Linked DNA regions of Homo sapiens. The protein of the gene in region 1 purifies or fractionates together with the protein of each later gene. This does not show direct contact. Each region holds a gene or a part of one and is shown on either strand. Other genes may lie near its edges.

Region 1 (3,600 bases):
CTAAAGCAGTGATTCTCAACTGTGAGATTTTTGTCCCCCAGAGGTAGGGGACAAAAAAAAATTGGCAATGACTGGTGGCATTTTGGTGTGGCAACTAGGTCGCAACTAGGTGGTGGGGGATAAGGGTACTACTACTGGCATCTAGTGGGTGGAGGCCATCTTTGTTGCTATACACAGGACAGCCTGCCCGTCCAACTATGAATTATCTGGCCCCAAATGTCAATTAAGTGTCTCTGCTGGGAAAAGCCTGGTTCTAAACTGAAACAAGCAAATTTGCAAATACAGCTGACAACTTCAAAAAACAATTGCCAAGCAAGTAATTCAAAGTTCACTAAGCTCTGTTATTGGTATAGAGACACACACATAATAAAGGCGTCTTTTTATACTATCAAAATGCATTAAAATGATTAATCATTAATGCAATAAGTGGCAAACACGTCAGCAAAGAGTACTTTTACTACCCAAGCAATTAAACATATACATCTTTTCAAAAAGAAATTCGGGAGACAAAAAAGGAAATGAGGTAATGACATTCTTGACAGTTCCTTTTTCTCCTCTCAGTCACTAGACTTTTAACTGGAGAAAGTTTAATGAGAGAAGGGAAGTTAACCACATGATACTAGTCGGCAGAATAATCTTAAACCAAAATACGTTGCTAAAGTATCTGTTAGAATCCTAACTAATGTTTACCTGGCAAAAGGACTGGCTCCAGTTTTTTAATCTTCGGTTCCGAATTGATCTTATCGTCAGTCTGAAATACATTAGCAAAATAAATCAAAATCTCAATCCCCCCACCCTCCGTAAAATGCTACAGCAAATGTTGTTTTCTAAGTGATGACACATGCGAAAGACACACAGCCCCCCATTTAAATTCTTTCGCATATTAACTGAGCTGTTTTTAAGATCTGCTCATTATCGACTTGGAAGCCTAATAATAAAAAATGTTTAAACTGCCAGTGTCGCTTCCAGGTGTTCACATTTATGACAGACGGGTAACCGCCTCGACCAGTGACCCCAAGCGCTGCAATCATGCTGGCGGTCATACGAGGGAGGGTCGATGGGTTGGAAACTAAAGAAAACCCCAGCTCCCAAGGCTCCCCTGGGCCTCAACACTCCGCAAAACTACGGACGACAGAACTTCGGGCAGAGAATGGCTGCAGAAGAGTTTTACAAGTTTTCGCCGAGCCAGTGGGGGCTCCCGAGAAGGCGCATTTCGCGGCGCCGGGAATCAGGCAGCCGCGCTGCTGTGGGCAGGGAGACGCGCGCAGCCTCCTGGGGTCCTCCAGTTCCCGGGGGTCGGCCTGGAGGCTCCACGGAAGCGCAGAGGAGAGTCGGGCGCTCGCGGGGAGGGGTTGTTTACCTGGGGCGGTGGCAGGAGGTAGGACCTGAAGGTGGGTTTGGGCGGCTTGAGGGAGAACATGGTGCCGCCGCCTTTTCGCCCCGTTCCCGTCGCGGGCCAGTGGCAGCGCCGACGCCTCCGGGCGTAAAGCTCTCAGTGCGGCCGCCCAGGCCCTTTCTGCGGCCAGCCGAGCCGGGCGGACTGACGGGCGGGGATACGGCGCAGCGCCCGCCCGAGCGGGGAGGGGCCGGGCACAGCCAGGCCGACGCGGGCGCCGGGGCCCATCCCCGGAAGGGGCCCGGTGCCCCGCCCCGAGAGACGGCGCGCGCAAGGCCGCGGCCCGCCGCTCCCTGACCGTGTCCCGTGCTAGTGCCGGAACGCAGCGGTGGCGCCAGGTGCCCGCTGGCGGGCCCTCAGCCGGGGCGCCGCGGGGAGCGGAGCCCGACGGCCATCTCAAGAGCGCGGCCTCTGGAGGGTCCTTCTACGGCGGCCCGCAGGGGTCAGGCGGCCCGCGGGGGCCTACGGCGGCCTGCGGGGGCCACGGCGGCAGCGGTGGCTGCCTGGGACGGCGGCGCGGGGCGTCTTCTGGCCGGGCTGCAGTCCTGGGACAGTTCCCTTGACTTACACATGGGCCGACTTCGCCCTCCGGCCTGGGCGAGCATTGTTTTGAAGCTCTCAAGGAGGAGCTCAGGGCAGGGAAAGGTGACTCGGGTCCAGGGGTCAGGCGGTCACCCCGTCTGCGCCCAGGATGCGAGGAACCGGCACTGGGAAAGTGGGCCGGTGCCGCCAAGCACAGGTCACTTCTGAGCTCTTACGGTAATTCTGACTGGAGCAGATTTTGGTGGGAGGGGGCTAGTGGTGTTACATTTTGGTGAATCTATTACTTGAGACTAGGTCCTTCTTATACCTTGAAGAATCAAACCCCAATCCAGCATTTTATGATTAATGCCACAGGGAAGCTTCCATGCAGCCATACCAGTCACAATCACGCTGATGAGTGTTACTCACAGGAACATTTAACAATTTAAATAAAGATTCAAAAAGTTATTCTTTTTCTGAAAATAATTTATCCTGGATTTAGAACCCTACTGATCTTTCAGGTTAACCTGTTTGAATTCCACTCTGCCCAAGAACCGTAACCATAATTGTATTTTTTAGAGTCAGGGTCTCACACCATCACCTGGGCTGAAGTGCAGTGGCATGATCAGGGCTCACTGCTGCCTCCACCTCCTGGGCTCAAGTGATCCACGTGCCTTAGCCTCTCAAGTAGCCGGGACTATGGGCATGAGGCACCGTGCCTGGCCATAATTGTACTTTAAAATGTTAGTTCCATTGGATTAGAAGTGTTAAAATCACTGTCGTGCACACTTTTTAAAAAATTTTTATGAATATGCTGTTATTCCTCTATATTCAACGGATATTTTCTACAAATACTCTTTAAGCAATAATTGGCTTTTTCTTTACACTTAAATGACTCTGTGATTTGGGTTTTTCTGTACAGGTTTTCTTAGGATCTGCAATTCTAATATGTGACCATACAACTGAAAAGTGGAAAAACTCTATTTCCAGATTTATTATTGTCTTAACACTAAATTTTATGGCATTTCCCAGATATCTGGTTGTATTAGTCTGCTCAGGCTGCCATAACAAAATACCACAGGTTGATGGCTTAAAGAGCAGACATTAATTTCTCACAATTCTGGAGTATAGGAAGTCCAAGATCCAGGTGTTGGCAAGGTAGGGATCTGCCTAACTTGTGGCAGGCAGACAGGTGAGGGCTCTCTGCCGGATTTGCAGATGGCTGCCATCTCACCATGTCCTCACACAGTGCGGGGAGGGTATATAACATGCTCTCTGGGATCTCTTGATGTCTCTTCTTGTAAGGACGCTAATCCTATCAGATTAGAGCCCCACTCTTACTACCTTATTTAACTTTAATTACCTCCTAAAATCTCCAAATGTAGCCATACCAGGGGTTAGGGTTTCAACATTAGCATTTTGGAGGAACACAATTCAGTCCGTAGAACTAGTTTTATAACCTCTTCTCAGACCCTGATGCCCTTGACTACGCTGTATGTTTGGTGTTATTGCCTACCCCCTGCTTTTGGCTCTAATGTCACTGTTTTGTCCTGCTTCACCCATTTTTCTGTTTTTGTTTGTTGTTTGTTTTGTTTTGGTTTTTTTGAGGCGGAGTCTTGCTCTGTCACCCAGGCTGGACTGCAGTGGCGCAATCACGGCTCATTGCAACCTCCGCCTCCCGG
Region 2 (3,823 bases), on another chromosome or scaffold:
TAAATACAGAATTCAAAAAATACTTGATTCAAACGTGCAATATATATAATCAAACTGCAAAGAAAAATCCTCCTTTCCTGGATAATTCAGGCTACAAATTCGAAAAAAAAAAAACCATTTAGTGAGCACCTATCACATGCTGAGACTATGTTAAGTGCTGGAGATATGAAGATGATTAAGATTGCCCTCAAGTATAATAGCTTATAACCTGGTAGAAAAGGCACTTTAAGCCAACAATTATAGTGTGCTTATTAAAGACTCTGAAAAACGACTGTGCAGGGAGCTATGAGTGCATATGGCAATGTAGAATGACGGGATCAGACAGTGGTTCCCCAGTGAGGTGCTGAACATCAACAGGAAAAAAGGCAATAACTACCCATATTTAGCAGAATCCAAAATGAATTATAATAGAGCCACTTCAACTGATTGAAGGAGAAAATGAAAATTGTGTGTTTTCACACAGCAGTTATCGAATCACTCTCTAATAACAATTAGACTATTATTCAGTGGAAAAGAACCAGATTTCATCGTGGCTGCATAAAAAGCAAATACAGGTCTTATATTATTTTTTAAAAAATTTTTAAATCATTATTTTAAAATCAAAGAAAAAGACTGCATCCAAAACGCGTCTAGTTAATATTCATAAAAGCTCTCTGCAAAGCTGCATAAAGTCCTCCTCAAAATTCCAGGATAAAATTCCCATCTGTTACAAGAGAAATGACAACGTGGAGAACCAGTAGCCCAAGAAGGAAGAAAACTACCACTCATTTTGTTTTCTTAAACCTATCACTGGGGATAAAAACCACTCAGATTCCTTGATACTGACTTTCAGCTGGAAGATTTAGAAAAGAGAAGCACAGGAGACATTTTTATTTACATATTTAAGCAAAAAGGGAGGCGAGAAGAAAATCAGAGTGTAGAGAAAAGCATGAAAGAAATTAAGAAGGTGAAGCCATGAAAAGAGAGAAAAGGGCTGGGCAAGAACCCAAAAACCAAAGACATAAGAAGGGGTGGAGGAGGAAAGACTGACTTTAGGATGGTTTTGGAAAAAGTGACAGAGAAAGACAGGAAATGTGGGGAAAAGAATGGGGGCGGGGGGAACTGTCTTAAAAAAGGTTTGAGAGGGAATGAAAGACAGGAGAAAGTAATTAACTGGGACCACCTCCATCGGGGAGAAAACGAGATCGGAATATGAAAGGTAGAGGAATCGATAAAGAAGCAGCGAGTTTTAACCTCCTTTTCCTCAGCCTCCACGCCCCAGGGAGGGAGGCAGAAGTGGTTCCCAAGTCCCGGGGAAGGAATTCCGGCGTAGCCTTCAGAAACCAGAATCCGCGAATTGGGGCAACAATCCAGCAGGTCCCCGGCCCCTCTCCATCCCCTTCGGACGCTGGGCGGGGCCCTGGGCGTCCTGGTTACCTGGACAAGGAGTCCACGCTGGGCGGCCGAGCCGCCGCCGGCTGGGAGCCAAGACTCTCGCAGCTCGAGCTCTTCTCCATCGCGCGGCAGGGGCAGCACAGGGAAAGGCTGAAGCAGTCTTCGCGGCTACAGGGCGGGAGAAGCGGAGGGCGGAGTGCTACGGACCGGGGCCGCAGTCAGGCCAGCGCCGGCCCGGGAGGGAGACCGGAAGCGGCCATGTTCCCCCAGAGTGCACCGCGCCTGTAGGCTGCTGGGCAGCGGGAAGACCCCACTGCGCAGCTCAGACGCCGGCATCGACTCTCCGTGCTGGCTGTGTCCGGCCGCGCGACATCTGGTCTTGGGGAAAGGGAGGTGGCGGCTCCCAGGGTGAGGGGGTCTGGTGAAGCGGGAGGGATGAAGGACCAGACCCTTATGGAAGGAGGAGAAATCCTAGGTGTAAGAGGAATGAGGGAACACTAAACATGAGGGTCTCAGGAAGGCGATAAGGACCTGAGGCCAGGAGGATGATTTAGACAGGAATGTGGGGGTCAAGGAAAACAAGAGGACCGGATAATGAGAGAAAAGTGAGAAAGAGGTATGGGAGAGGGATTGGGGAGGATCTGATATACATGCAAAAAGAATTATATACTACTGGATGCGGTGGTGTTGGATTACCCAAGTAGAAGACAAACTTTCACCGATTTTTCCCTGCCCTTTCAAATTCCCGTGCCTAGCAGGAAGGGAGTGTGGAGGAATAGAACTGTGATAAGAGAACAGGAACTGGGTAAAGGGGAAATGCTTCTGCTAGGATTTTTCTGTTAGGATACAGGAAAGCCATAAGGACACCATAAAGGGATTTTTCTGATTGAGATTGAATCCTAATCATCTCATGTATGGGGTGTAAAATTATGCAAAGATTATTCCTGTAAAAAAAAAATCAGACCATCCTTAAAAAACTTCCTTGCTAGGATAAATTGAATTATATTGATTTAAACTAGATTTAATTTATAATGTACAACTGATGTCTTTTAAAAAACCTTATAGTTGCAGTGCAGTATTAACTTGCAAGTACATTCCCAAGAAGAACAACCTAGCTTAGTTATGTTCAGTGTAAGGTAGAATAGTTACTGATGAGTATGTGTTTAAGCACAAAAGGCTTAGCCTTTTTTGAGTTTGGCGAGGACAGACAGCGACCGATTGTTTTTATTTCCATAATTTTTAAGATACCTTAACTGGACTCTGTAGGCAAAGGGAGTAGGTAGTCAAAAACATTTTTTAACAAGCTTAAATATCTATCATGACTCATAGAAGAATTTCCTTATTTCTTCACCATCTCTACCTGCCTTCCAAAATGCTGACTCACTGTCAGCTACTTTGACTTAAATTTCCTTAGTGAAGGCTGATGAACCCTTGAATGGGAGACCTATGTACTTTCTTCCACCCAGTTCATTCGTAGCACTTTGTTAATAGAACCCTCGAAACCTTCTGCCTGATGTAACAATATGTGTATGGTTCTATCTAGTGATTAATAAAGAACAGTGTAGTAAAAGTGTAGAGACTTTGGAACCAGACAGATCTTCATCGGAATCCCGGTTCTGTCTCTACACTTGCTCTGTGCTGTGGTTAAGTTGTTTCACATCTCTAAAATGGGAATAAAATGGGAATAAAAATATCTACGTAATAGGTTGTTTTTCTCTGTGCAGAGTCGGTTGCACAGTACGGTCTCACTAAGTAGATTTATTATTACTTGTTTTTCCACTGAACTTACTGCTTGACTTCTAACCTGACTGGTAAAATGGTAACTTCTCAGAGTGAAAACACAAGCAAAGAATATCAGCTGGAAATTAATTAGTGAACTCTAATTAATTAATGAACTCTAAGAAAATGAAAAAACATGGTTAACTTGGGACCTCACCAAAAGTTATTAATTTTTCAATTTATAATCTGGGCTGTTTTTTCTCAAACTATCTGCAAGAAGGAACAGTGTTTTGTTTTTAATTTTCAAACCATCACCAACCAAAACTTTTTTAAAATATAAGAAAAATTAATCACAGTTGGTTCCATATCCTCAGATTCAACCAACCACAGATTGAAAAATTTGTAAAAATTGTAAAAAACAAAATAATACAAATAGAAGACAATACAGTATAACAACTATTTACATAACATTTACATTGTATTAGATATTATAAGTAATCTAGAGTTGATTTAAAGTATACAGGAGGGTATGCATAGGTTATATGTAGACACTAATGCCATTTTATTTAAGAGACTTGAGCATCTTTAGCTTTTACTATCCTTGGGGGTCCTGAAACCAATAACCTGCAGATACTAAGGGATAACTGCACTAGGAAAATTAAAGAAAAAGGTTTGCAAAATACAAGGCCAAATTGTTTATTAGATTTAACAGATATTACTCCTTGAAAGT

Evidence for each region. The genes of interacting proteins can lie anywhere in the genome.
Region 2: the proteins of MTMR10 (region 1) and MTMR2 purify together in Homo sapiens (affinity purification with mass spectrometry; 5 studies listed by BioGRID and IntAct, with this or other methods). This does not show direct contact.

What each region holds. Positions count from the first base shown.
Region 1 is NC_000015.10:30,990,087-30,993,686, forward strand, and holds the start of MTMR10 (myotubularin-related protein 10), read right to left. Parts: upstream 1,543-3,600; 5' UTR 1,421-1,542; coding exon 1,361-1,420; intron 752-1,360; coding exon 691-751; intron 1-690.
Region 2 is NC_000011.10:95,922,459-95,926,281, forward strand, and holds the start of MTMR2 (phosphatidylinositol-3,5-bisphosphate 3-phosphatase MTMR2), read right to left. Parts: upstream 1,650-3,823; 5' UTR 1,497-1,649; coding exon 1,417-1,496; intron 1,402-1,416; exon of another isoform or gene 1,234-1,401; intron 1-1,233. UniProt on the Homo sapiens protein: Lipid phosphatase that specifically dephosphorylates the D-3 position of phosphatidylinositol 3-phosphate and phosphatidylinositol 3,5-bisphosphate, generating phosphatidylinositol and phosphatidylinositol 5-phosphate.